Linked DNA regions of Homo sapiens: region 2 is linked to region 1. Evidence: fine-mapped expression QTL. A gene starts in region 1. The other region holds a variant in brackets. All regions are shown on one strand. Distances are from middle to middle. Region 1 holds the start of CLPP (caseinolytic mitochondrial matrix peptidase proteolytic subunit). Region 2 holds the start of ACER1 (alkaline ceramidase 1).

Region 1 (13,500 bases):
CTTAGAGCAACGCCTGGTCCGTCTGTGCACGGACCAGGATGAAATAAAGGAGGGTGCTTACCGATCACCTGCAGGCTCTGTTTGGTGTGCTTGGCGTAGATGTTATAGAGCTGCTTCTTGAGCTTCATGATCTCCTCTGCCTGGATGGCAATGTCTGTGGCTTGGCCCTGAGGGACGTCCAAGGGAGTGAGGGGGTAAAGGTTGGTATCGGCGTCAGCCCCTCACAGGGAGGCTGGAGGTGGCACTCAGGAGCTTCCCTGGGCTTTGGGCTTCCGGTTTGAGGCTGGTGGGCTGGGGTTGTGTAAATCCCCCGATATCCTGCTTCAGTCTTGCCACTACCAGGAAGGCTTTCTGACTGGATTAAGTATATGTTATTTTCTGCATCTGAAGCCTTGCAGACTGGGAGGAACAGTGTCTCTCTGTCTCAGCATTAGCTAAGCCTTTTTTTTGTTTGTTTTTTGTTTTTTTTTTTTAGAGATGGGGTCTTGCTATGTTGCCCAGACTGGTCTCAAACTCCCGGCCTCAAGTGATCCTCCTGTCTCGGCCTCCCAAAGTGCTGGGATTACAGGCATGAGCCACCATGCCTGGCCGCCTTTTTTTTTTTTTGAGACAGGGTCTTCCTCTGTTGCTGGGGCTGGAATGCAGTGGTACAAGACAGCTCATTGCAGCCTTCACCTCACAGGCTCAAGCAATCCTCCCACCTCAGCCTCCTGAGTAGCTGGGACCAGAGGCAAGCATAACCATGCCCGAGTCATTTTAAATATTTGGTAGAGATGGGGTCTCACCATTGCCCAGGCTGGTCTTAAACTCTTGGCCTCAAGTGATCCTCCTGCCTTGGCCTCCCAAAGTGCTGGGATTACAGATGTGAGCCACTGTGCCCAGCTGAAGCTAATTCTCAAGAGACAGCAAACAACTCCTCAGTGCATTTTCTTTTTTTCCCTTTGTTGTTTTGAGACAGAGTCTTGCTCTGTCATCCAGGCTTGAGTGCAGTGGCGCAATCTCAGCTCACTTCCACCTCCTGGGTTCAAGTGATTCTCCTATCTCAGCCTCCCAAAACAGCTGGGATTATGGGCACGCACCACCATGCCCAGCTAATTTTTGTATTTTTAGTAGAGACGGGGTTTCATCATGTTGGCCAGGCTGGTTTAGAATTCCTGACCTCAAATGATCCACCTGCTCCAGCTTCCCAAAGTGTCAAGATTTACAGGCGTGAGCCACCATGCCTGGCCTTTTTTTTTTTTTTCTTTAATAGAGACAAGGTCTCATTATGTTCCCCTGGCTGGCCTCGAACTCCTGAGCTCACGTGATCCTCCCGCCTCTGTCTCCCGAAGTGCTAGGATTACAGGCGTGAGCCACCACACCCAGCCTGGCCTGCACATTTTAAGACATCCACTCCCGGCTGGCCCAGCGCGGTGGCTCACGCCTGTAATTCCAGCACTTTGGGAGGCCAATGTGGGCGGATCACGAGGTCAGGAGATCGAGACCATCCTGGCTAACATGGTGAAACCCCGTCTCCACTAAAAATACAAAAAGCCGAGCGTGGTGGCGGGCGCCTGTAGTCCCAGCTACTCAGGAGGCTCAGGCAGAAGAATGGCGTGAACCCAGGAGGCGGAGCTTGCAGTGAGCCGAGATCGCACCACTGCACTCCAGCCTGGGCGACAAAGTGAGACTCCATCTCAAAAAAAAAAAAAAACATCCCCTCCCACGCTTGACTTCCGCCCAGTCAGTCCTTCTGTCTAGACCCTGTCCTGATTCCCAACAGCAGCTCGCGTGTCTGGCACTCACCCGGGCGCCTCCTGAGGGCTGGTGGATCATGATACGGGAGTTGGGGAGCGAGTGGCGCATGCCTGGGGTGCCGGCGGCGAGAAGCAGGGAGCCCATGCTGGCGGCCTGGCCCACGCACCAGGTGCAGATCGGGTTGAGGATGTACTGCATCGTGTCGTAGATGGCCAGGCCCGCGGTCACCACACCACCTGTGGGCGGGGGAGCAAGTGAGGGGCTGGACCAGCTCCCCCCGACCCTTTCCCTATTCCATCTCCTAAACCTGGGGAGGGTGGAACAGATGCAGCCCCCCTCCTTTTTTAAAAATTAATATGACTGGGCGCTGTGGCTCATGCCTGCAATCCCAGCACTTTGGGAGGCTGAGGCAGGCGGATCACAAGGTCAGGAAATCAAGACCATCCTGGCTAACACAGTGAAACCCCGTCTCTACTAAATATACAAAAAATTAGCCGGGCGTGGTGGCGGGTGCCTGTAGTCCCAGCTATTCCGGAGGCTGAGGCAGCAGAATGGCGTGAACCCGGGAGGCGGAGGTTGCAGTGAGCCGAGATAGCGCCACCGCACTCCAGCCTGGGCGACAGAACGAGACTCCATCTCAAAAAAAAAAAAAAAAAATTAAGACTGGGTTTCACTGCTTTCACTATGTTGCCCAGGCTGATCTCGAACTCCTGGGCTCAAGCAATCCTCCCAAAGTGTTGGGATTACACGTGTGAGCCACCATGCCCAGCCAGAAGCAGCTATTTTTTTTTTTTTGAGACTGAGTCTCACTGTCACGTAGGCTGGAGTGCAGTAGCGCGATCTCAGCTCACTGCAACCTCCACCTCCCGGGTTTATGCAATTCTCCTGCCTCAGCCTCCCGAGTAGCTGGATTACAAGTACACCACCATGCCCGGCTAATTTTTGTATTTTTAGTAGAGATGGGATTTCACCACGTTGGCCAGGCTGCTCTCAAACTCCTGACCTCAAGTGATCAGCCCACTTCAGCCTCCCAAAGTGCTGGAATGACAAGCGTAAGCCACTGCGTCCGGTCTAGAAGCAGCTCTTTAAAGCAGGGTTCACAAACACAAATGCTTCCAGGGGTTGGGAGGTGACAAAAACAAGTGACACGGCCCAGGTGCAGGCAAAAGGCAGAGCGCTTGCTTTACAGTCAGCTGACTCTTGCCAGATGTGCCAGTGGACCATGGGATCAGATCTACTAAATTTCCAAGAGAAACTAGAAATCAGGCCAGGCGTGGTGGCTCATGCCTGTAATCCCAGCACTTTGGGAGGCTGAGGCGGGTGGATCACTTGAGGTCAGGAGTTCAAGACCAGCCTAACATGGTGAAACATCATCTCTACGAAATACAAAAAATTAGACAGGCATGGTGGCACATGCCTGTAATCCCCAGCTACTTGAGAGGCTGAAGCTGGAGAATCGCTTGAACCCAAGGAGGCAGAGGTTGCAGTGAGCTGAGATTGCAACACTGCACTCCAGCCTGGGTGACAGAACGAGACTCCATCTCAATAAAAAAAAAAAAAAATGCCTCCATCATAAGTGCTCAATCAAAATTGACTACTTTTTTTGGGGAGGGGGAAAAAATCTACCAATTATGATTATTTTTGAGATGGGCTCACTACAGCCTCGACCTCCTGGGCTCAAGTGATCCTTCTCCCTCAGCCTTCCGAGTTGCTGGGACTACAGGCACACGCCACATTGCCCGGCTAATCTTTGTACTTTTTTTGTAGAGATGGGGTCTCACTACGTTACCCAGGCTGGTCTTGAACTCCTGAGCTCGAGCAATCCGCCCGCCTCAGCCTCCCAAAGTGTTGGGATTACCGGTGTGAGCCACTGTGCCCGGCCTAAAATCTACCAATTTTTAAATGTCAGCCGGGTCAGGTTGGCAGAACAGTATGTGCAGGATCAAAGAGGCCACATCCTGACTTGTGAACCGAGGCTCAAAAGCCAGCAACAGGCACCTTTTGGTGGTTTAAAGCCACTTCTGGAACTCTGACGCTCTGCACCCTTTCCCAGAGAGAGAACATCCCTGACCCGGGATTCTGGTCCCCTGAGTCACCCGTGTGCCCTGACGAGTGCCCCTGGCACCCAGGAAAGACCCTGCTCACCAGGGCTGTTGATGTACATGTGGATGGGCTTCTTGTTGCTCTCGGATTGCAGGAAGAGGAGCTGTGCGATAACAAGGCTGGCAACGCTGTCATCGATCTGCAGGTGGAGAGGGCAGGGGTGTCCCCAGATTCGGGGTGGGGAGAGAGTTTTAAGGGAGGCTGGGGATGGGTCAGGGAACCAGGAAGGGGGACCAGAGCCCAAAGTAAAAGGGATGGGGAAGAATTTAGGCCCCAGAAGGGGATGGGGAGAGAGTAGTGGAGAGGACCCAGGGGGTTTGGAGCACAGGAAGGGGGGAGTCAGGGGGCTAGGGACACAGGAAAGGAAGGGGTGAGAATGGCTGGGGAGAGTCTTGAGCGTAGGAATGAGGGGAGCGGTGCCAGGTGTCAGGAAGGAAGTCGGAGATTAAGAGCCGAGGAGCAGAGAAGGGGTGAGGAGCGGGTTGGGGGACCGGGAGCCAGGAGGGGAGTCAGAAGGGGAGGGAAGGGGGTTAGAAGGGGAGCGGAGCCTGAGGGAAAGTCTGGGGCCAGGGAAGGAGGGGCGCAGGGAGTGTCGGCAGGCGCTTGGGAGAGTCCTGGGGAGGGTCCCGGCGCGGGGCGCTCACCGGGCCCATGACGCACACGATGCGCTCCCGCAGCAGCCGCGAGTAGATGTCATAGGCGCGCTCGCCGCGACCCTGGGGGTAGAAAGATGGAGGTGAGGGGCCGGGGCAGCCAGCCGATCCCCACCCAGCCCGGAGCCCCCGAACCGTGTCCCCGCCCGGCCGCCGTACCGTCTGCTCCACCACGATGGGAATGAGCGGGAGAGCCCGGGTCGCCGTCGCGTGCAGGCACCGCTGCAGGGCCAGGCCGTTCTGGAGTGTCCGCTGCGGCGGCCGCTGCGCTGGAAAGTGAGCGGCGAGGCGAGGCCCCAGCGCGGGGTACCTGCATGACGCCACCCGGGCCCCCCCTACCAATATTCCGGGCCACATCCCTCCGCACGCCCCGGTCGGCTTCCGTCCGATGGCGGAACTACAGCTTCCGGCGTGCTTTGCGCCTGGGAGCTCGCTCGCTAGGCCGCTCACTTCCAGGAGTCTGGGCGGGCGCCATTAAGGGTGAGGCGGGGATAGGGACGGAGCCTGAAAGGGAGGAGCCAATGAAGTAAATTGAGTGGGCAGGGCTGGAGAAGTTTTAGAGTCTCCAGTTCGAGTCCCCTTACCGACCAATTCGTCTTCTTTTTTTTTTTTTTTTGAGACGGAGTCTTGCTCTGTCACCCAGGCTGGAGTGCGGTGGCACGATGTTGGGTCACTGCAACCTCTGCCTTCTGGGTTCAAGCCATTCTCCTGGCTCAGCTGCCCCAGTAGCTGGGATTACAGATGCACACCACTGCACCCGGTTAATTTTGTTATTTTTAGTAGAGATGGGTTTCACCTTGGCCAGGCTGGTCTTGAACTCCTGACCTCGTGATCTTCCCACCTCGGCCTCCCAAAGTACTGGGATTACAGGCGTGAGCCACCGCGCCCGGCCTCGTCTTCGTTTTCTACTGTTTCTGCTTTATTTATTTTTATTTTTTTGAGACAGAATCTCACTCTGTGGCCCAGGCTGGAGTGCAGTGGCGCCATCCTAGCTCAATGTGGCCTCAAATTTCTGGGCCCAAGCAACCCTCCCTCCCACCTTGCTCTCCAGAGTAGCTGGGACTACAGTTGTGTGCTACCACATCTGGCAAATATATATATATATGTATTAGAGATGGGGTCTTACTATGTCGCCCAGGCTGGTCTCAAACTCCTGGCCTCAAGTGATCCTCCCACCTTTGCCTCCCAAAGTGCTGGGACTACAGGCATGAGCCACCACACCCCACTTATTCCTTATTTTAAAAATAGCTGCAGGGCCGGGCACAGTGGCTCACGCCTGTAATCTTAGCACTTTGGGAGGCTGAGGTGGGCGGATCACGAGGTCAGGAGATCGAAACCATCCTGGCTAACACGGTGAAACCGCGTCTCTACTAAAAATACAAAAAATTAGCCGGGCGAGGTGACGGGCACCTGTAGTCCCAGCTACTCAGGAGACTGAGGCAGGAAAATGGTGTGAACCTGGGAGGTGGAGCTTGCAGTGAGCTGAGATGGCGCCTCTGCACTCCAGCCTGGGCGACAGAGCCAGACACCGTCTCAAAAAAAAAAAAAAAAGCTGCAGTGTTCCCACAGCTCATCTTGGAAGAGGGGTCCCAGAGAGGACTTAGCCTGGGTCTTGGCCTTGAAGAGCTTCCAGCCTGGTGTGGCCGACTTCTACTGAGACCTCCTCATTCATTTTTTGGCCACCTGTGGAGTAGATTGTGGGAGCCCAGAGAAGGGTGTTGTGGATTCTTCCTGGAGATCAGACCGGAAAGCATTCCTAGGAGAAGCAGGTATTGGAATTGGGCTTTGCAGGATAAGTAGGAGTTTGTTAGCTGGGGAAAGGCATTTCCAGCAGAGGAAAAAGAATGGGCAAAATGGTGGAAGTAGGAAGATTGCTGGTAATGTTGGGACTTCTCTTTTTTGCCACACCTTCTCAAGCCAGATTCTTTTTCATCATTCAGTTCAATGTCACTATCTAAGAGGTGCCCACTGCTTCATCCCCAAAGTCTAGAATAGTGCCTGACACACAGTAGGTGCTCATTAAATACACATTGAACCAAGAGATGAAGAGGTGATAAAGGAGGTAGGTAGAGGGCTTTGGAGGCATCTGCAGAGTGGGGATAATGATAACCTACCTCCTAGGTTTGTGCAGAAAGTCCTCAGAAAGGGTCCAAAAATGTGTAAAAAGTGCTCAGTTTGAATGATTTATTGCTGTGTTAGATCAGGGACCATGGAAGTCTGAGAAGTCTTCAGGTCCTCCCACATGGGAGTCTACTTGAAGTGTTTTTTTCTTTTTTTTCCCGGGGCAGTCCTTCGAATCACAGCAGATTCAGGCGAGGTGTTGTGGTGGCTCATGCCTGCAATCCCAGCACTTTGGGAGCCCAAGACATGTGGATCACCTAAGGACAGGGGTTTGAGACCAGCCTGACCAACACAGTGAAACTCCGTCTCTATTAAAAATACAAAATTATCTCGGCATGGTGGTGAATGCCTGTAATCCCAGCTACTTGGGAGGCTGAGTCAGGAGAATCACTTGAACCCAGGAGGCAGAGGTTGCAGAGAGCCGAGATCACACCACTGTACTCCAGCCTGGGCAACAAGAGCAAAACTCTATCTCAAAAAAAAAAAAAAAATCACAGCAGATTCAGAGAGACTCCTGAAGTGGATTTTGATGTATAAGAAGTTTACCAAGCAGTAAGCGGTAGACTCTTTTTTTGTTTTGAGTCAGTGTCTCGCTCTGTCACCCAGGCTGGAGCACAGTGGTGTGATCAGAGCTCACTGCAGCCTTGAACCTCTGGGCTCAAGCTATCCTCTCACCTCAGCCTCCCAAGTAGCTAGGACTAGAGGTGCATGTCACCACATCTGGCTAATTTTAAAATTTTTTGTAGAGACAGGGTCTCCCTATGTTGCCCAGGCTGGTCTTGAACTCCTGGACTTAAGTGATCCTCCTGCCTCAGCCTTCCAAACTGCTGAGACATGAACCATCATGCCCAGCTGGACTCTTTTTTTTTTTTTTTTTGAGACAGAGTTTTGCTCTTGTTGCCCAGGCTGGAGTGCAATGGCACAATCTCGGCTCACCACAACCTCCGCCTCCCAGGTTCAAGCAATTCTTCTGCCTTAGCCTCCCGAGTAGCTGGGATTACAGGCGCCCACCACCACGCCCAGCTAATTTTGTATTTTAAGTAGAGACGGGGTTTCTCCATGTTGGTCAGGCTAGTCTCGAACTCGCGACCTCAGGTGATCCACCCGCCTCAGCCTCCCAAAGTGCTGGGATTACAGGCGTGAGCCACTGCGCCCGGCCACTGGACTCTTTTTTTTTTTTTTTTGAGATGGAGTCTCGCTCTGTCGCCCAGGCTGGAGTGCAGTGGTGCGGTCTCGGCTCACTGCAAGCTCCGCCTCCCAGGTTCACGCCATTCTCCTGCCTCGGCCTCCCAAGTAGCTGGGACACTGGACTCTTAAACTTGATGCTGGGTACCCTAGATAAGAATAATTTTGTGCCCTCTGTAACCTCGAGGGGACTGCAGTCCGATGGGGAGATAGAAGGGGACACAGACACTCCCAGTTTTGTAGAATCAGGAGTAAGACAGAGGGAGGGAGTTGAAGGTGACAGAGTTAGGAGAATACCTTGCAGGTCCGCAAAGCAGAAAGCCCACATGGCAGCCAGCGCTGGCAGGCAGGGCCTCACGGTGGAAAGCCGGCATTTGGGCTCAGAGGGTGTTGGCCAGAGGTCTGGAATCTTACTTTTATTTCCAGCTGGGATTGAGGAGGTAGGAGGGCAGCTGCTGTCCCAGTTTCTGCTGTGAGTCAGGTGGGTGGCCCTGCCCGGCCGGTTGCCCCAGGGCTGCAGCTCCTGCCCCCGCCCTGGGGAGAAGGGCCAGGACAACAGCTGCCACCATCCCTGCAGCCACTCCTCCACTCCTCCACTCCTTCACTCCTCCGGACGCTGCCCTGCACCCCCTGCCTGCCCTGCCTCTGACGTGGGATGGCGGGGTCCTCTTAGATGTGTTCCCTGTCTCCCTTTGTTTAATCAGCTTCACTTCTCCCCATTGCAACTGCTTTTCACCTTCTTCATTGTTAATAGCTCCCTAACAGGTGCTCCAGTATCACCCACGTCACTGTGACCTACTGTCTCTTCTTCACTATTCTTCACTCTAAGAGATCCCCAAAAAAGCTAATTTTTTTTTTTTTTTGAGACGGGGTCTCACTCTGTCATCCAGGCTGGAGTGCAGTGAAGCGATCTCGGCTCACTGAAGCCTCTGCCTCTCCGGTTCAAGCGATTCTCGGGCCTCGACCTCCTGAGTAGCTGGCACCCACCATCACGCCCAGATAAGTTTTGTATTTTTAGTAGAGATGGGGTTTCACCATGTTGGCCAGGCTGGTCTCGAACTCCTGACCTCAAATGATCCATGTGCGTCAGCCTCCCAAAGTCCTCAGATTACAGGTGTGAACCACCGCGCTTGGCTGAGAAACCTAAATTGAACTGCGGTTCCCCGTCCCCCCTGCTGACCCCCCTTATCTCCTTCCCTACCCTGGTCTGCTTTTCACACCCCAAACACATCAAGCTCAATCCAGCCACAAAGCCTCTGCTTTACTCTGCTTGGAGTCAAGCCAGGCAGAGTGGCTCACGGCCGTAATCCCAGTACTTTGGGAGGCGGAGGCGGGCGGCTCACCTGAGGTCAGGAGTTCAAGACCAGCCTGACCAACGTGGTGAAACCCCGTCTCAACTAAAAATACAAAAATTAGCCAGGCATGGTGGCCTGCGCCTGTAGTCCCAGCTACTTGGGAGAGACTGAGGCAGGAGAATCGCTTGAACCCGGGAGGCAGAAGTTGCAGTGAGCCAAGATTACACCATTGCACTCCAGCCTGGGCGACAGAGCGAGACTCCATCTCAAAAAAAAAAAAAAAAAAAAGTCTCAGCTCAGATGTCATCCCTGAGAGAAGCCTTCCCTGAACACCTTTGCTAATATCCCAGGCACTCTAGAACATTTGCCTTGTTTAATTTTCATCTTGGTGTGACTTTCATCATAAACAATTGCATTAATTCATTTGTTTCTTTTTCTATTGTCTGCAGAACATTCTGCTATCTTGTTTGGCTCTGGTGCATAGCTCACTGCAGCCTCATACTTCTGGACTCAGGTGAATCCTCCCAACCTCAGTCTACCAAGTAGCTGGGACCACAGGCACACGCCAACAGGACCTGCTAATGTTTTTAAAGTTTTTTTTTTTTTTTACATGCAGTATGATTTATTTTATATAATGTTCAAAAGCTTGCAAAAACAGCATATTGTTTACAGATGCATATTTTGGAGGTAAAATTATGAAGAAAAGCGAGATCATTATAAACAAAATTTAGGAGGGGGCTGGGATGGAGAAGGGCATGCAAAAGGGCTTTAACGGTGTTGGTTGTAATCTGTATCTTAAACTGGGTATGGGTAGTAGGGTGTCCAGTCTATTTATTTATTTATTTATTTTATTTATTTTTTTATTGATCATTCTTGGGTGTTTCTCGCAGAGGGGGATTTGGCAGGGTCATAGGACAATAGTGGAGGGAGGGTCAGCAGATAAACAAGTGAACAAGGGTCTCTGGTTTTCCTAGGCAGAGGACCCTGCGGCCTTCCGCAGTGTTTGTGTCCCTGGGTACTTGAGATTAGGGAGTGGTGATGACTCTTAACCAGCATGCTGCCTTCAAGCATCTGTTTAACAAAGCACATCTTGCACCGCCCTTAATCCATTTAACCCTGAGTGGACACAGCACATGTTTCAGAGAGCACAGGGTTGGGGGTAAGGTCACCGATCAACAGGATCCCAAGGCAGAAGAATTTTTCTTAGTACAGAACAAAATGAAAAGTCTCCCGTGTCTACCTCTTTCTACACAGACATGGCAACCATCCGATTTCTCAATCCTTTCCCCGCCTTTCCCCCCTTTCTATTCCACCAAACCGCCATTGTCATCATGGCCCGTTCTCAATGAGCTATTGGGTACACCTCCCAGACGGGGTGGTGGCTGGGCAGAGGGGCTCCTCACTTCCCAGTAGGGGTGGCCGGGCAGAGGCGCCCCTCACCTCCCGGACCGAGGCGGCTGGCCGGGCGGGGGGCTGACCCCCCCACCTCCCTCCCGGATGGAGCGGCTGGCCGGGCGGGGGGCTGAACCCCCCACCTCCCTCCCGGACGGGGCGGCTGGCCGGGTGGGGGGCTGACCCCCCCACCTCCCTCCTGGACGGGGCGGCTGGCCGGGCAGAGGGGCTCCTCACTTCCCAGTAGGGGTGGCCGGGCAGAGGCGCCCCTCACCTCCCGGACGGGGCGGCTGGCCGGGCGGGGGGCTGACCCCCCCCACCTCCCTCCCGGACGGGGCGGCTGGCCTGGCGGGGCTGACCCCCACCTCCCTCCCGGGTGGGGTGGCTGTCGGGCAGAGACGCTCCTCATTTCCCAGACGGGGTGGCTGCTGGGCAGAGGGGCTCCTCACTTCTCATATGGGGCGGTTGCCAGGCGGAGGGTCTCCTCACTTCTCAGACGGGGCGGCTGGGCAGAGACGCTCCTCACCTCCCAGATGGGGTCGCGGCCGGGAAGAGGCGCTCCTCACTTCCTAGATGGGGTGGTGGCCAGGCAGAGACGCTCCTCACTTTCCAGACTGGGTAGCCAGGCAGAGGGGCTCCTCACGTCCCAGACGATGGGCGGCCAGGCAGAGACGCTCCTCACTTCCCAGACAGGGTGGCGGCCGGGCAGAGGCTGCAATCTCGGCACTTTGGGAGGCCAAGGCAGGCGGCTGGGAGGTGGAGGTTGTAGCAAGCCGAGATCACGCCACTGCACTCCAGCCTGGGCACCATTGAGCACTGAGTGAACCAGACTCCGTCTGCAATCCCGGCACCTCTGGAGGCCGAGGCTGGCGGATCACTCGCACTTAGGAGCTGGAGACCAGCCCGGCCAACACAGCGAAACCCCGTCTCCACCAAAAAAATACGAAAACCAGTCAGGCGTGGTGGCGCGCGCCTGCAATCACAGGCACTCGGCAGGCTGAGGCAGGAGAATCAGGCAGGGAGGCTGCAGTGAGCCGAGATGGCAGCAGTACAGTCCAGCTTCGGCTCGGCATCAGTGGGAGACCGTGGAAAGAGAGGGAGAGGGAGACCGTGGGGAAAGGGAGAGGGGGGAGAGGGAGAGGGAGAGGGAGTGACACTTCTCCTGTTTTTAAAGTTTTTGTTGTAGAGACAAGGTATCGATATGTTGCTGAGGCTGGTCTCAAATTCCTGAGCTTGAGCAATCCTCCTGCCTTGGCCTCCCAAAGTGCTGGGATTACAGGCGTGAGCCACTGCACTCAGCCCATTAAACCTTTTTGATTAGGGCTCACAAGGAGAAACATATCTTACATAGTGTCTGAGTACACAAAAATACAAAAGTCTTATAAAATGAAACTTATTATTTGAGCAATGTCCTTTGATATTTTCTATTCTATTTGATCCTGTTCTATTGCATTTCACTTAAAGTAGGGTTTTTCAACTTTGGCACGATTGAAAATCTGAGTTGGAGAATTCTTTGAAAGTACAAAAGGCCACCCAGGCCACTGTAGGGTGCTGAGCAGCATCTCTGGCCTCCACCCACTCGATAACAGGAGCACCCCCACCCCTACCCCCATCAATTAAAAAAAATGCCCCCCTAACAGTAAAAAGTATCTCAGACATTGCCAAGTATCCTCCAGGGGGCAGAGTCGCTCCCAGCTGAGAATCACTATTTATTTATTTATTTACTTATTTATTTTATTTTATTTTATTTTATTTTTGAGATGGTCTCTTGCTCTGTTGTCCAGGCTGGGGTGCAGTGGTGTGATCTTGGCTCACTGCAGCCTCCACCTCCTGGGTTCAAGTGATTCTCCTGCCTCAAACTCCTGAGTAGCTGGGACTACAGGCATGAACCACCATGCCTGGCTAATTTTTGTATTTTTAGTAGAGATGGGGTTCCACCGTGTTGGCCAGGCTGGTCTCAAACTCCTGACCTCAGGTGATTTGCCCACCTCGGCCTCCCAAAGTGCTGAGATTACAGGTGTGAGCCATCACAGCTGGCCTGAGAACCACTGTTTTATTTTATTTTATTTATTTTATTTTATTTTATTATTTTATTGTATTTATTTTATTTTATGAGATGGGGTTTCGCTCTTGTTGCCTAGGCCGGAGTGCAATGGTGTGATCTGAGCTCACTGCCACCTCTCCCTTGCAGGTTCAAGCAATTCTCCTGCCTCAGCCTCCCAAGTAGCTGGGATTACATGCACGTGCCACCACGCCAGGCTAATTTTGTATTTTTAGTAGAGATGGGGTTTCAGCATGTTGGTCAAGCTGGTCTTGAACTCCTGACCTCAGGTGATCCACCTGCCTCTGCCTCCCAAAGTGCTGGGATTACAGGTGTGAGCCACCATGCCCAGCCAAGAACCACGACTTAAAGTGGATAGTGATCTGAAATAGAAGAAAAACAACTTTATTTATTTATTTTTATTTTGTAGAGGCAGAGTCTCACTATGCTGTCCAGGCTGGTTTCAAATTCCTGGAGTCAAGCAACCCTCTTACCTTGGCCTCCCAAAGCGCTGAGATGTCAACAGAGGGAAAGAGTTGAAGGTGAGTTTGTCTCCTTTTTTTTTTGAAGTAGAGTCTTGCCTTGTCACTCAGACTAGAGTACAGTGGTGTGAACATGGCTCACTGCAGCCTTGACCTCCTGGGTTCAAGCAATCCTCCCACCTTAGCTTGCCAAGCAGCTGAGACTATAGGCGCAAGCCACCACGCCCAGCTAATTTTTGTTTCTGTTTTTATAGAGACAGAATTTCTCTTATGTTGTCCAAGCTGGTGTTGAACTCATGGCCTCAAATGATCCTCACACCTGCCTCGGCCTCTTGGTGCTGGGATTACAGATGTGAGCCACCACACCAGGACTCCATAAATATTTAATGTGTTGTTTTCATTCCTCCAAACCTTGCTCAGTAAGTTCTGAATGAATGAGTATTTTGGCTCTTGGCTCCAAATCAACCTGCCCTACTGGTTTTTGGTTATCA
Region 2 (16,084 bases), 20 kb after region 1:
CACCACGCCCGGCTAATTTTTGTATTTTTAGTAGAGACAGGCTTTTGCCATGTTGGTCAGGCTGGTCTTGAACTCCTGACGCCAGGTAATCCACCCACTTCGGCCTCCCAAAGTGCTGGGATAACAGGCGTGAACCACCACGCCCGGCCATCATTTTAACTCCATTACCTTTCTAAAGACCCTGTTTCCACACAGTGGCTCGTACCTATAATCCCAGCACTTTGGGAGGCCATGGTGGGCAGATCACCTAAGCCCAAGAGTTCAAGGCCAGCTTGGGTAACATGGCGAAACCTCATCTCTACAAAAAATTCAGAAACATTAGCTGAGTGTGGTGGTGCACACCTGTCGTCACCACTAACGAGGCTGAGGTGGGAGGATGGCTTGAACCCAGGAGGTTGAGGCTGCAGTGAGCTATGATTGCACCACTGTACTCCAGTCTGGATGACAAAGTGAGATTCTGTCTCAAAAAAAAAAAAAAGAAAAAGAAAAGAAAAGAAAAAGAGACTATTTCCAAGCAAGGTCACATTCTGAGGGACGAGGGGGTCTGTAACTTATCTTTTATTATTATTTTATATATATATATATATATATATTTTTTTTTTTTGTAGAGACAGGGACTCGTGGTGTTGGCCAGGGTGGTCTCAAACTCCTGACCTCAAGCGATACTCCCTCCTTGGCCTCCCAAAGTGCGGAGATTATAGATGTGAGTCACCATGCCCTGTCTGCAACACATCTTTTTAGAGAATACAATTCAAGCCATAACAGTAAGATCCCTCTTTATCTTTCCTTTTTTCCCTCCTCGGTCTCAGCCTTCAAGAAGGAAGGAAAGAAGGGGGTGGGCAGAGAACCTCCTCCCCGCTGGACCAGAGTAATCTCCGCTGTGATGTTGAAGAAAATACATCTGAGTTCTGAGCTAGATGGACAGATTTTAAACCTTTGAACCTTAGAATGGACTGATGGAAAACAGCGGCTGGGGGTGGTGGCTGACCACCAGATGTAGATGGCTGGTGGACAGCCATCTAGAAGCCAAGGAGAGAGGCCCCAGGATTATCCTAGCATTTTGGGAGGCCAAGGTGTGATGATTGCTCCAGCCAGGAGATTGAGGCTGCAGTGAGCTATGATTGCAGCACTGCACTCCAGCCTGGGTGACAGAGCAAGACCCTGTCTCAAAAAAAAAAAAAAAGAAAAGAAAAAAAAGAAGAAGAAGAAGGAGAAGAAGAAGGAGGAGGAAGAGGAGGGGGAGGAGGAGGAGGAGGAGAAAAGAATGAGTGAAATAAAAGGTTAATAACCAATAACCTTAGAATACCCATTTGAGGTTATTGGATTTAGGTAGAGGAGGCAGTAGAAATGACATAATGCCACTTAATGAAAACTTTTCTCGAACTTTTTTTTGGAGGAAGGAATGAGACAGGCTCAGTTGAAGAGATACTTCCAGATTAGAGTCTCCAGATTTAGCACATAAAAATACAGGAGGCTCATTTAAATTTGAATTTCAGATACATGAAGAATAATTTTTAGGATAATCCGATCATATGCAATATTTGGAACATATTTATGCCAAAAACTTATCCATCGTTAATCTGAAATTCTGATTTAACTGGGTGTCCTGTATTTTATCTGGCAACCCTTCTTCTAGTAAGTCATGGAATTAACCCACCTTGGAAGATGATGTGATGGTCAGGCACAGTGGCTCACGCCTGGAATCCCAGCAGCTTGGGAGGCTGAGGTGGGAGGATCACTTGAGCCTGGGTGTTTGAAAGCAGCCTGGGCAATATAGGGAGACCCCATTTCCAATAATAATAATTATTATTATTATTATAATAAAATTAGCTGGATGATGCCAGGCATGGTGGCTCATGCCTGTCATCCCAGCACTTTGGGAGGCCAAGGCAGGTGGATCATCTGAGGTCAGGAGTTGGAGACCAGTCTGGGCAACATGGTAAAACCCTGTCTTTACAAAAAATACAAAAATTAGCTGGGCATGGTCGTGCGCGCCTGTAATCCCAGCGACTCAGGAGGCTGAGGCAAGAGAATCGCTTGAACCCAGGAGGCCGAGATTTCAGTGAGCTGAGATCGTACCACTGCACTCCAGCCTGGGTGACAGAGTGAGACTCCATTTGAAAAAAAAAAAAAAAAAGAATCTAATACCTGATGATCTGTCACTGTCTCCCATCACCCCCAGCTGGGACAGTCTAGTTTCAGGAAAACAAGGGGAGGGCTTTCCCTGATTCTACATTATGTGAGCTGTATAATTAGTTCATTATATATTACAGTGTAATACTAATAGAAATAGTGAACAATAAATGTAATGTGCTTGAATCATCCTGAAACCATTCCACACCTCCGTGATAAAATTGTCTTGCACAAAACTGGTCCTGGGTGACAAAAAGCTTGCAGATTGCTGCATTATAGCATAAAAGTAGCCATAGACAACTTACAAACAAATGGGTGTGACCGTGTGCCAATAAAAATTTATCCACATAACTTCATTTACAAACAACACACGGAGGCCGGGCACGGTGGCTCACGCCTGTAATCCCAGCACTTTGGGTGGCAGAGGCCAGTGGATCACCTGAGGTCAGGAGTTTGAGACCAGCCTTGACCAGCCAGGAGATCAAGACCATCCTGGCCAACGTGGTGAAACCCCGTCTCTACTAAAAATACAAAAAATTAGCCAGGTGTGGTGGCGGGCACCTGTAGTCCCAGATACTTGGAAGGCTGAGGCAGGAGAATGGTGTGAACCCGGGAGGCGGAGGTTGCAGTGAGCCGAGATCGTGCCACTGCACTCCAGCCTGGATGACAGAACGAGACTCCATCTCAAAAAAATAAACAAATAAATAAATAAAATAAAATAAAATAAAATAAAATAAATTGATTGTTGTGAAATATATCTTCACAAGAGGATATATAACATACATATATGGTTTAAAGAAAAAAACAACAAAATAATCCAACAATTGTGCCCCCTTGTATTTACCTAGATGCATTGAAAACTTATACCCACACAGGCCAGGTGCGGTGGCTCACGCTTGTAATCCCAGCACTTTAGGAGGCTGAGGCAGGCGGATCACTTGAGGTCAGGAGTTCAGGACCAGCCTGGCCAACATGGTGAAACCTTGTCTCTACTAAAAATACAATAAATTAGCCAGGTATGGTTGTGGGTGCCTGTAGTCCGAGCTACTAGGGAGGCTGAGGCAGGAGAATCCACTATTTACTTAACGAGTCTTTATTTAATAAATAAATAAATTTATTTATTTATTGAGATGGAGTTTTGCTCTTGTTGCCCAAGATGGAGTGCAATGGCACAATCTTGGCTCACTGCAACCTCTGCCTCCTGGGTTCAAGCGCTTCTCATGCCTCAGCCTCCTGAGTAGCTGGAATTAAAGGTGCCCCACCATGCCTGGCTAATATATATATATTTATATATATATTTTTAGACGGAGTCTCGCTCTGTCGCCCAGGCTGGAGTGCAGTGGCGCAATCTCGGCTCACTGCAAGCTCCACCTCCTGGGTTCGGGCCATTCTCCTGCCTCAGCCTCCCGTCGCCTGGCTAATATTTTGTATTTTTAGTAGAGACAGGGTTTTACTATGTTGACTAGGCTGGTCTCGAACTCCTGACATCAGGTGATCCACCTGTCTTGAGCTCCTGGGATTACAGGCATGAGCTGCCATGCCCGGCCTACTTATCAAGTCTTTAACTCAGGGATGTTTGTGAATAGTTCCATGGTTTTGCTATTGCAGGCAGGGCTGCTCTGAATAATCTTGTACCAGAATCCTGGGTCCATTTGTGGGAGTTTCTCAGGGGGACATAAATCCAGGAGATGAGTTGCTGGTTGTAGGACATGTTCATTTGCACCTTTACTGAATGTGATGGAGGCAGCCTGTTGTGGTTTAAAGATTCAGGCTCCCTTCCCACAGGGTAAAGTGGATACCAGGAAGTGGCTGCTGTGCTACAGATTACATTTCCCAGCAACCCTTTCATCTAGTGGAGGTCATGTGACTAGTTCTGACCAATAGAGGTACACCAAAGCCATGTTGGGATTGAGAGCCACAAGTTGGGAGGAAGCCCACATTTTGTTAGTGGAGGCCACATGTTGAGGTGGGGGCCACATGATGGGTATGGAGGCCACATGTTGGGAGCAAAGGGCACATTTTGGGATTTAGAGCCACAAGTTGGGAGGAAGCCCACATTTTGTGAGTGGAGGCCCCACGTTGAGATGGATGCCACTTGATGGGTATGGAGGCCACATGTTGAAAGTGGAGGCCACATATTGGGAGTGGAGGCCACATGTTGAGATGGAGGTCACGTGTTGGGATGGAGGCCACATGCTGGGATGGAGGCATCATGAGAAGGAAGGAAGGGGCCTGGATTGCTAAATTCCCACTTGCCTGAGCCTTCTGGGACAGCTTCACCCTCCATACTCTTTGCTTATGTGAGATGTAAACTTTTAGGACACTGATATTTGTGGAATTGTCTTGTTCTAACAGTTGAACTACTGTACCCAGTAATGCTTCAGGTAATGTCAAATTATTTTCCAAAGTGGTTGGCCTCTTCATATTTCCACCACTCCCCCACTTCCCATCCTCACCAGTACTCGGAATCGGCAAGTTAAAGAAAAAACTTTTGGCTGGGTGCGGTGACTCACGCCTGTAATCCCAGCACTTTGGGAGGCCAAGGTGGGCGGATCACCTGAGGTCGGGAGTTCGAGACCAGCCTGACCAACATGGAGAAACCCTGTCTCTACTAAAGATACAAAATTAGCCGGGCACAGTGGCGGGTGCCTGTAATCCCAGCTATTCGGGAGGATGAGGCAGGAGAATCACTTGATCTCGGGAGGTGGAGGTTGCAGTGAGCCGAGATCATGCCATTGGACTCCAGCCTGGGCAACAAGAGCAAAACTCCGTCTCAAAACAAACAAACCCACAACTTTTTATCTTGAAATAGTTTGTTTTTATTTTATTGTATTTATTTATTTATTTTTTTGAGATTGAGTCTTGCTCTGTTGCTCAGACTGGAGTGCAGTGGCACGATCTTGGCTCACTGCAAGCTCCACCTCCTGGGTTCACGCCATTCTCCTGCCTCAGCCTCCTGAGTAACTGGGACTACAGGCGCCCGCCACCACGCCTGGCTAATTTTTTGTATTTTTAGTAGAGACGGGGTTTCACCATGTTAGCCAGGATGGTCTCAATCTCCTGACCTCGTGATCCGCCCGCCTCAGCCTCCCAAAGTGCTGGGATTACAGGTGTGAGCCACCACTCCCGGTCTGAAATAGTTTGTTTTTAAAATGGATTATTATTATTTTTTTTTAGAGACACAGTCTGCCTATGTTGCCCAGGCTGGTCTCGAACTCAAACAGAAATTGCAGTGAGCCAAGATCAAGCCACTGCACTCCAGCCTGGGCAACAGAGTGAAACTCCATCTTAAAAAAAAAAAAAAAAAAAAAGAACTAGGATACTCTCTTACACAACCAGAATTCATTTATCTACTTCAGAAAATAAATATGGACACAATACTATTATCTACTTTATATTCCATGTGCAAATTTCACCAATTACCCAATAATGTCCTTTGTGACTTTGGGCATTGTTAGACTAAAATTTTCCCCATCTGTACGGTAACCATTATTGACTTAAACACTGTCTTTAAACAAGTTCATTTTCCAAAAACACTTTCCAAATATTAATGCATATCTTTACTTCAAAAGGAAATTTTATATTGCTCCACTACATGGAAAGCTACTAAATAAATAGAAAGCAAGTATTAAAACCAACACTGCTGGGTGCAGTGGCTCACGCCTGTAATCCTAGCACTTTGGGAGGCCAAGGCAGGCAGATTATGAGGTCAGGAGTTCAAGACCAGCCTGGCCAACCTGGTGAAACCCGCGTCTCTACTAAAAATAAAAAAAATTAGCCGGGCATGGTGGCGGGTGCCTGTAATCCCAGCTATTTGGGAGGCTGGGGTAGGAGAATCGCTTGAACCCAGTAGTCAGAGGTTGTGGTGAGTGGAGGCTGCTGCACCATTGTACTCCAGCCTAGGTGACAGAGCAAGACTCCATCTCAAAACAAAAAGAAAAACAAAACAAAACAAAACAAAAGAAAACAAAAAAAAGCCCAATGCTAAGATGGGTATAGTTCCTTTTTTCTTTTTCTTTTTCTTTTTTTTTCTTTTTTTTTTTTTTGAGACAAGGTCTTGCTCTGTGGCCCAGGTTGGAGTGCAGTGGTGCACACATAGCTCACTGCAACTTCGACCTTTAGGCTCAAGCAATCTTCCCATCTCAGCTTCCTGAGAAGTTAAGACCACACGTGTGTACCCCCACTGGCTAACTTTTTAATGTTTTGTAGAAACAGGGTCCCCTATGTTGCCTAGACTGGTTTTTTGTTGTTGTTTTTTTTGAGATGGAGTCTCGCTCTGTTGCCCAGGCTGGTTTGCAGTGGCGAAATCTTGGCTCACTGCAACCTCCACCTCCTGGGTTCAAGCGATTCTCCTGCCACAAGAATTGCTTGAACCCTGGAGGTGGAGGTTACAGTGAGCCGAGATCGCGCCAGTGCACTCCAGCCTGGGCAACAGAGCAAGACTCCGTCTCAAAAGAAAAGAACAAAGTCAGAGAGAGACTGGAAGAGGCTGCACTGTGGCTGTGAAGGTGGAGAACAGGACATGGGTTGCCTCTAGACACTGGACGGGGCAGGAAACGAGGTCTCTCCTGGAGCCTCCACCAGGAACACAGCTGTGATGACACCTTTAGCCTATAAGACTCATTTCAGAGTCCTGACCTGTAGAAAGGTAAGATGATAAGTGTGTGCTGTTCTAAGCCATTACATTGGTGGCATTTGTTACAATAACCGCTGAGAGCTCACACGCCTCTGTTTGTCACCCTCTCTCTAGCCCCTTCTCTCCCCCTAGCGGGGGAAGAGCTCTCCCCCGGCTCCCACCCACCTTCCTGGCTGCTCTGTCCTCCCTAGTCAGCACCATGATCACTCAAGTTCTCCGGTCTGGGCTGGGCGTGGGTGCCAGTCACTACCTTACTGCCTGCTATTAAACCCTCGCCAAGATTCAGGATCTCAGCAGCTGGGTCCTGTTCCAGCTATGAGCAGAAAGGGGCCTCAGAGACCATCTGCTCCACCCACACACAGAGCAGAGACTGTTTCAAAATTACTCCATGGGGAAGGAGTCAGGGTCGCTACTGGGGAGCTGGGGTGGCAGTGGTGGTGTCTGTTTGCCCTCCTGGTCCACCTGGGAAGCGGATTTGGGGGCTAGGGCTGTAGCTAAATGGTGTATGTTTGTGGAGGGGTGCTATACAGAGTCAGGTCAAGCTTTAGTTCTGTTTTTCTTCCTTCCTTCCTTCCTTCCTTCCTTCCTTCCTTCCTTCCTTCCTTCCTTCCTTCCTTCCTTCCTTCCTTCCTTCCTTCCTTCTTTCTTTTTTTGGAGACAGAGTCTTGCTCTATGCCCAGGCTGGAGTGTAGTGGCGCGATCTTGGCTGACTACAACCTCCACCTCCCAGGCTCAAGTGATTCTCGTACCTCAGCCTCCCGAGTAGC[TG/G]GGATTACAGGCACGCACCACCACGCCTGGCTAATTTTATTTTTTTTATTTTTAGTAGAGACGGTGTCTCACCATGTTGGCCAGGCTGGTCTTGAACCCTGACCTCAAGTGATCCACCTGCCTCAGTCTCCCAAAATGCTGGGATTACATGTGTGAGCCACCACGCCCAGCCCCAAACCCCTCTTTTAAAAACCTAAATCAGGCCAGGCGTGGTGGCTCACGCCTGTAATCCCAGCACTTTAGGAGGCTGAGGCGGGCGGATCATGAGGTCAGGAGATCAAGACCATCCTGGCTAACACGGTGAAACCCCGTCTCTACTAAAAATACAAAAAAAACTTAGCCGGGTGTGGTGGCGGGCGCCTGTAGTCCCATCGGGAGGCTGAGGCAGGAGAATGGCGTGAACCCGGGAGGCGGAGCTTGCAGTGAGCCGAGATCGCACCACTGCACTCCAGCCTGGGCAACAGAGAGAGACTCCATCTCAAAAAACAAAAAACAAAAACAAAAACCCTAAATCATTACTTTGTAAAATTGTGGTAAAAGATACATAACACGAAACTGATCATTTTAATCATCAAATGCATAGTTCAGCGGCATTAAGCACATTCGCATGTCTATGCAGCCATCACCACCATCCCCTCCAGAACTTTCTCATCTTTCCAAACTGAAACTCTGTCCCCAAGAAACACTCACTCCCTATCCCCCTCCCCAGCCCCTCATACCCCCCGTTCTACTTCCTGTCTCTGTGACTCTGAGGACTTTGGGGACCTCCTAGGAGTGGGATCACACAGGATTTGTCCTTTTATGTCTGGCTTATTTCACCCAGCTTGATGTCCTCAAAGTCCATCCACGTTGTTGCCTGTATCAGAATTTCCTTCCTTTTTCAGGGCTGAATAATATTCCACGGTATGGATGAACCACACACATTGTGTTTATCCATTCATGTATTAATTAAAAATCTAAATCAATCCCTTTATAAAAAGAGATTTTTAGGCTGGGTGCGGTGGCTCATGCCTGTAATCTCAGCACTTTGGGAGGCTGAGGCAGGCGGATCACCTGAGGTCAGGAGTTCCAAACCAGCCTGGCTAACATGCTGAAACCCCATCTCTACTAAAAATGTAAAAATTAGCCCGACGTGGTGGTGGGCGCCTGTAATCCCAGCTATCGGGAGGCTGAAGCAGGAGAATCATTTGAACCCAGGAGGCGGAGGTTGCAGTGAGCCGAGATTGCACCATTGCACTCTAGCCTGGATGACAGGAAGAGACTCGGTCTTAAAAAAAAAAAAAGATTTTAAGGCCAGGTGCGGTGGCTCACACATGTAATTCTAGCACTTTGGGAGGCTGAGGTGGAAGGATCGCTTGAGCTCGGGAATTAGAGAGCAGTCTGGGAGACATAGTGAGAACCTGTCTCTACAAAAAATAGAAAAAATTTGCCTGGCCTGTAGTCCCAGCTACTTGGGAGGCTAAGGTGTGAGGATCACTTGAGCCCAGGAGGTTGAGGCTGCAGTGGCCTGTGATTGCACCACTGCACTCAAGCCTGGCAGCAGAGTGAGACCCTCTATCAAACACATTAAAAAAAATGGAATAATTATAAACTTGCAGGAACCTGCAATAATAATATAGAAGAATCCCAGGTAATCTTCATCCAGTTTCTCCCAGTGGTACCTCTTTTATAACTATACATTTTCACAACCAGAAAGGTGATATAAATATGACCTATAGACCATATTCAGATTTCAACAGCTTTTCCCATGCATTCATGTGTTAGACAATTTTCTTTTCATTTTCTCAGAAAAATGGGAGCAAATCTATGCAATAATATCACATGTATAGATCTGTGCAAACACAACCACAATTGTAACACTTACATTTATTTTGGCCAGGGCACAGTAGCTCATACCTGTACTCCCAGCAACTTGGGAGGCGAAGGTGAGAAGATTGCTTGAGCCCAGGAAATTGACATTGCTGTGAGCTAGGATTTTACCACTGCCCTCCAGCCTAGGAAACGGAGCAAGACTCCATCTCTTAAAAAATACATATTTATTTTATTATTTTATTTTTATTTTATTTAATTAACTATTTTTTTTTGAGACAGGGTTTCCCTCTTTTTGCCCAGGTTAGAGTGCAGCGGTGGAATTAGAGGTGTAAGCCACTGCACTGGGCCAAAATATTATTTTAAAAAGAAAATTCTGGGGCTGGGCGCGGTGGCTCACGCCTGTAGTCCCAGCACTTTGGGAGGCCGAGGTGGGTGGATCACGAGGTCGGGAGATCGAGACCATCCTGGCTAACATGGTGAAACCCTGTCCCTACTAAAAATACAAAAAAATTAGCCAGGCGTTGGTGGTGGGTGCCTGCAGTCCCAGCTACTCGGGAGGCTGAGGCAGGAGAATGGCATGAACCCAGGAGGCGGAGCTTGCAGTGAGCCAAGATCGAGCCACTGCACTCCAGCCTGGGCGACAGAGCAAGACTCCATCTCAAAAAAAAAAAAAAAAAAAAAAAAAAAAAAAAGAAAGAAAGAAAGAAAAGAAAAGAAAAAGAAAAAGAAAACTTTGGCCAGGCAGGGTGGTCCACGCCTGTAATCCCAGCTACTCAGAAGGCTCAGGCAAGAGAATCGTTTGAACCTGGGAGGTGGAGGTTGCAGTGAGCCGAGATCATGCCATTGCACTCCAGCCTGGGGGACAGAGCAAACGCCATCTCAAAAAAAAAAAGAAAAAAAAAGGAAACTTTGTAACCCTACCGTGAATGGAAAGTAGATTTGGCTTACCATGAATACAAGCTTATCAAAAAATAAATACAATGTAAACAAATCATGTTACTAAATTCTAACAGAATATTGTTGCCTAATGAAGGGCTTTTCTTTTCTTTTTTGTCAAAGTCATTAAGTGTTAAGAGACATAGAACATATTAGCACTGACTGAGCCTCTCTTCTCCAAATATTGGAAATTGAAAAAGTTGATTACTTTCAGACACCACAGTGATTTTTTTTTTTTTTTTGAGAGGGAGTCTCACCCTGTCGCCCAGGCTGGAGTGCAGTGGTGCAATCTCGGCTCACTGCAACCTCCGTTTTCTGGGTTCAAGCTATTCTCCTGCCTCAGTCTCCTGAGTAGCTGAGATTACAGGCGCGTGCCACCACACCAGGCTAATTTTTGTATTTTTAGTAGAGACGGGGTTTCACCATTTTGGCCAGGCTAGTCTTGAACTCCTGACCTCAAGTGCTCCACCTGCCTCAGCCTCCCAGAGTGCTGGGATTACAGGGGTGAGCCACCATGCCCGGCCAGTTCAGTGATTTGGAATGCAGGGCAACATAGCACCACAATTTATCTTTCTTTTTCTTTTTTTTTTTTTTTTTTGAGTCGGGGTCTCGATCTGTCGCCCGGGCTGAAGTGCAGTGGCGTGATCTCGGCTCACTACTACCTCCACCTCCCAGGTTCAAGCGATTTTCCTGCCTCAGCCTCCCAAGTAGCTGGGACTACAGGCGCCCGCCACCATGCCTGGCTAGGTTTTTATATTTTTAGTAGAGACGGGGTTTCACCATGTTAACCAGGATGGTCTTGATCTCCTGACCTCGTGATCCGCCTGCCTTGGCTTCCTAAAGTGCTGGGATTACAGGCATGAGCCACCGTGCCCAGCCCACAATTTATCTTTTTATGGAAACATCGTGTCAGCTCACTAACTCTTCACAACAGGCTTGAGAGGGCAGTACCATTATCATTTTCACCACCTTACAGGTGAGGAAACTGAGGCATCATAGAGGTGGTGTTCCTTGCCTGTCTCTATCACTTCCTAACTGTGTGACCTATGGTAAGTTCCTTAACTTCTCTGGGCTTTAGTTTCCTTGCTAGTGATTACTAGCAGGAGATAGGATCGCATGAGCTCAGGAGATCAAGCAAGGCTGCATTGAACTATGATTGCGCCACTGCACTCCAGCTTGGGCAACAGAGCAAGACCCTGTCTCAAAAGAGAAAAAGAGGCCAGGCACAGTGGCTCAAGCCTGTAATCCCAGCACTTTGGGAAGCCGAGACAGGTGGATCACCAGAAGTCACGAGTTCGAGACTAGCCTGGCCAACATGGTGAAACCCCGTCTCTACTAAAAATACAAAAATTAGCCGGGCATGCTGGCGGGTGCCTGTAAATCCAGCTACTTGGGAGGCTGAGGCAGGGGAATCGCTGGAACCTGGGAGGCAGAGGTTGCAGTGAGCTGAGATCATGCCATTGCACTCCAGCCTGGGTGACAAGAGTGAAACTCTATTTCAAAAAAAAAAAGAAAAGAAAAAGAAAAAAAAGAAAAAGAAAAGGGATAACAATAGTTCCTGGCGCTTAGGATTTTTTCTTTTTTTTTTAGACAGAGTCTTTCTCTGTCACCCAGGCTGGAGTGCAGTGGTGCAATTTTGGCTCGCTGCAAGCTCCGTCTCCTGGGTTCATGCCATTCTCCTGCCTCAGCCTCCTGAGTAGCTGGGACTATGGGCACCCACCATCACGCCCAGCTACCTTTTTTGTATTTTTAGTAGAAATGGGGTTTCACTGTGTTAGCCAGGATGGTCTCAATCTCCTGACCTTGTGATCCTCCCGCCTTGGTCTCCCAAAGCACTAGGATTACAGGCGTGAGCCACAGCACCCGGGGTAGGATTGTTAAGAACATTAAATGAAGGCCGGGCACAGTGGCTCACGCCTGTAATCCCAGCACTTTGGGAAGTCGAGACGGGCAGATCACAAGGTCAGGAGTTTGAGGCCAGCCTGGTCAATATGGTGAAACCCCGTCTCTACTAAAAATACAAAAATTAGCTGGGCATGGTGGCAGGTGCCTGTAGTCCCAGTTACTCAGGAGGCTGAGGCAGGAGAATTGCTTGAACTAGGGAGGTGGAGGTTGCAGTGAGCCAAGATCATGCCACTGCACTCCAGCCTGGGAGACAGAGTGAGGCTCCATCTCAAAAAAAAAAAAAAAAAAGAACGTTAAATGAGATAATACTGAAAATCAAGCACTTAAAAAAAGAAAAATTATATAATATATAATATTAATTATTATATTAAATTATATTAATCACATTAAAATAATATACTAAAATATTTAAAATATTATATAACAATAGTATTTTTAATATAATAATTTTATATTTTAATATAATATTGCTATTATATAATAAATAATTATATTATTATTGTTATGCACACTTGCTAACCGCTTGCTAAGGCCAGGCTCTTTTATTATAATAATAATAATTATTATTATTCCCACAAAGTTGACTTAAAGTTCAAGGTCAGCTTCAGTAAGAAAACCCTGTAATCCCAGCACTTTGGGACAGAGCAAGACTCCATCTCAAAAAAAAAAAGAAAACCCATTACCATCCATCAAGTGCCTACTCTAGCATAGGCAGTGGGCTAAGCCTTTGTACATGCTTTATCTCTGTCTTCCTTTGTTACAGTTGGCTCTGTCACCATCGTCTCCATATGACAGGTGAGCAAACAGAGGATCAGAGAGGTAAATTCACTTGCCCAAGGTCACACAGCTTAAAGTAGAGGAACTCAGGCCAGGTGAGGTGGCTCATGCGTATAATCCCGGCACCTTGGGAGGCCAAGGTGGGCAGATCACCTGAGGTCAGGAGTTCGAGACCAGCTTGACCAACATGGTGAAATCCTATCTCTACTAAAATACAAAAAAAATTAGCTGGGCATGGTGGCAGGTGCCAGTCATCCCAGCTACTTGGGAGGCTGAGGTAGGAGAATCGCTTGAACCCAGGAGGTGGAGGTTGCAGTGAGCTGACATTGCGCCACTACACTCCAGCCTGGGTGACAGAGCCAGACTGCATCTCAATTTTAAAAAAAAAGGCCGGGCACGGTGGCTCACGCACACCTATAATCCCAGCACTTTGGGAGGCCAAGGCAGGTGGATCACGAGGTCAGGAGATCGAGACCATCCTGGCTAACACAGTGAAACTCCATCTCTATTAAAAATACAAAAAATTAGCCGGTCGTGGCGGTGGGCGCCTGTAGTCCCAGCTACTCGGGAGGCTGAGGCGGGAGAATGGCGTGAACACGGGAGGCAGAGCTTGCAGTGAGCTGAGATCATGCCACTGCACTCCAGCCTGGGCAACAGAGCGACTCTGTCTCCAAAAAAAAAAACAATTAGCTAGGCATGGTGGCAGCATGTGCCTGTGGTCCTGGCTACTTCAGAGGCTGAGGCAGGAGTATTGCTTGAGCCTGGGAGTTTGAGGCTGCGGTGAGCTATGATGATGCCACTGTACCCCAGCCTGAGCAACAGAGCAAGGCCCTGACTCTAATAAATAAATACATACATACATAAAAGATAAAAACAGTTCCCTCCACTGCCCCCACCCCGATTCCTATTCCTGGGTAATCTGGATGGGAGGCCTCTTCCCTGCCTACTTCTGCCCCCTGCCCTGCCTGGACAGTGCCAGTCCCACGGCTTATGCTCAGGGCTGCTGTCACTGCACAGCCAGGCTGCCCTGGTGCAACTGGGGAGCGGCCCAGCAGGTTTTTCCTCCCAGTCTGCCTGCCGCGGGGCACCGGGCTGTCCTCTCCCCGCCTCATCAGGGCCCAGCCTTCCCAAGCTCGCCTTCTCTCTGCCGGGCGCAGCCGGCTGGTGGTGGCCACTGAGACAAGATGCCTAGCATCTTCGCCTATCAGAGCTCCGAGGTGGACTGGTGTGAGAGCAACTTCCAGTACTCGGAGCTGGTGGCCGAGTTCTACAACACGGTGAGTGCGTGGGTGTGTGAAGGAGTCTCGCCAGATGCCGGTTCGAATCCCGGTTCCTCCCCATACAGCCTTACTGGGGAATCTTGCTGGAGTGGTTCACCTGTCTCAGCCCTAGTTTTCTCATCTGTTAGCCAAAGAGTGCCAGCTTTCATTCATTTACTTGTCTTTACTTGATGCCAAGCTCTGTGGTAGGTTTTGGAGACACATTGGTGGCCAGGAAAAGAACCGGTCTCTGCCTTCCCTAAGCTAACTCTGATGTGACTGCAGGCATTTGCAACCGGGAGCGATGGTGCCTTCTTGGAGGGCACAGAGGCAGCTGTGGTAGGGGGAGGCAGAGGGTGCCCCTGAGCTAGAGGGGGTGGGCCAATCAGGAAAGGCTTCCTGGAAGAGGTGATTGTGTCTGTCTTGTTTGCAGCTGTACCCACTGACCAACTTGTCCCAGTGTGCCTGGGACTATCCTGGTTTCAGTATTTAAAAAGTTTCACCTCTTGGCTGGGCGCGGTGGCTCACGTCTGTAATCCTAGCACTTTGGAAGGCCAAGGTGGGTGGATTGCCTGAGCTCAGGAGTTGGAGATCGCCCTGGGCAACGTGGTGAAAGCCCATCTCTACTAAAATAAAAAATTAGCTGGGTACGGTGTCAGGCATCTGTAGTCCAAGCTACTCAGGAGGCTACGGCATGAGAATCGCTTGAACCCAGGAGGCGGAGGTTGCAGTGAGCTGAGATTGTGCCACTGCACTCCAGCCTGGGTGAAAAAGCGAGACTGTCTCAAAAAAAGAAGAAAAAAAGTCCCACCTCCTGAGAAACTCCTCAGTTCTGGACATTCTGAGGTGGTCTTCTCTTTCCCTGTTAAAACACCACATGGGAAGTGCTAAAAAATCATGGATGTACCTAGCACCATGGCTCATGCCTGTAACCCCAGCAATTTGGAACGCAGAGGCAGGAAGATCGCTTGAGCCCAGGAGTTCCAGACCAGCCTGGGCAACATAGCAAGACCCTGTCTCTACAAAAAGTTTTTAAAAATTAGCTGGGTGTGGTGGTGTGTGCTTGTAGTTCCAGCTACTTGGGAGGCTGAGGGGGGAGGATTTCTTGAACCCAAGAAGTGGAGGATGCAGTGAGCTGAGGTCATACCACTGCACTCCAGCCTGGGTGACAGAGGGAGACCCTGTCTCAAAAAAAAAAAAAAAAAAAAAAGGCCGGGCGCGGAGGCTCACGCCTGTAATCACAGCACTTTGCGAGGCCAAGGTGAGTGGATCACCTGAGGTCAGGAGTTCGAGACCAGCCTGGCCAACATGGTGAAACCCCATCTCTACTAAAAATACAAAAATTAGCCAGGTTTGGTGGCAGGCACCTGTAATCCCAGCTGCTTGGGAGGCTGAGGCAAGAGAATGGCTTGAACCCAGGAGGCGGAGGTTTCAATGAGCCGAGATCGCACCATTGCACTCCAGCCTGAGGGACAAGAGCGAGACTTCGTCTCAAAAAAAAAAAAAAAAATAGGAATGCACAAATGATCACGGCATTTAGCCAAAGCTTAAAGCCAAAGATCAGTGCAGCTATGCCATGCCCATACTGGGTGCTGGGAACACAGAGGTGTTTGCCTGGAGCCCTGGGAATGATGGGATCCAGGCATAGTGCTTAGTTCTTTTGTTTGTTTGTTTGTTTGTTTTGAAACGGAGTCTCGCTTTGTCACCTAGGCTGGAATGTAATGGCGCGATCTCGGCTCACTGCAACCTCTGCCTCCCGCGTTCAAGCCATTCTGCTGCCTCAGCTTCCCGAGTAGTTGGGATAACAGGTTCCCACCACCACGCCTGGCTAATTTTTGTATTTTTAGTAGAGACAGGG

The links.
Region 2: its variant is fine-mapped to the expression of CLPP in cerebellum (GTEx, PIP 0.92).

The regions. Positions count from the first base shown.
Region 1 is chr19:6,352,925-6,366,424 of GRCh38, reverse strand. It overlaps CLPP (caseinolytic mitochondrial matrix peptidase proteolytic subunit), which reads right to left and starts at 4,894. Exons shown (of 6, transcript NM_006012.4): 1 at 4,653-4,894; 2 at 4,485-4,556; 3 at 3,883-3,979; 4 at 1,786-1,973; 5 at 62-167. The coding sequence starts at 4,850. It also overlaps a transcript of ACER1 not described here. RefSeq lists an enhancer at 3,262-4,219 and a silencer at 4,418-4,647.
Region 2 is chr19:6,331,619-6,347,702 of GRCh38, reverse strand. ACER1 (alkaline ceramidase 1) reads left to right here and starts at 14,091. Exons shown (of 6, transcript NM_133492.3): 1 at 14,091-14,244. The coding sequence starts at 14,152. The variant TG/G (reference allele first, on the strand shown) is at 7,537.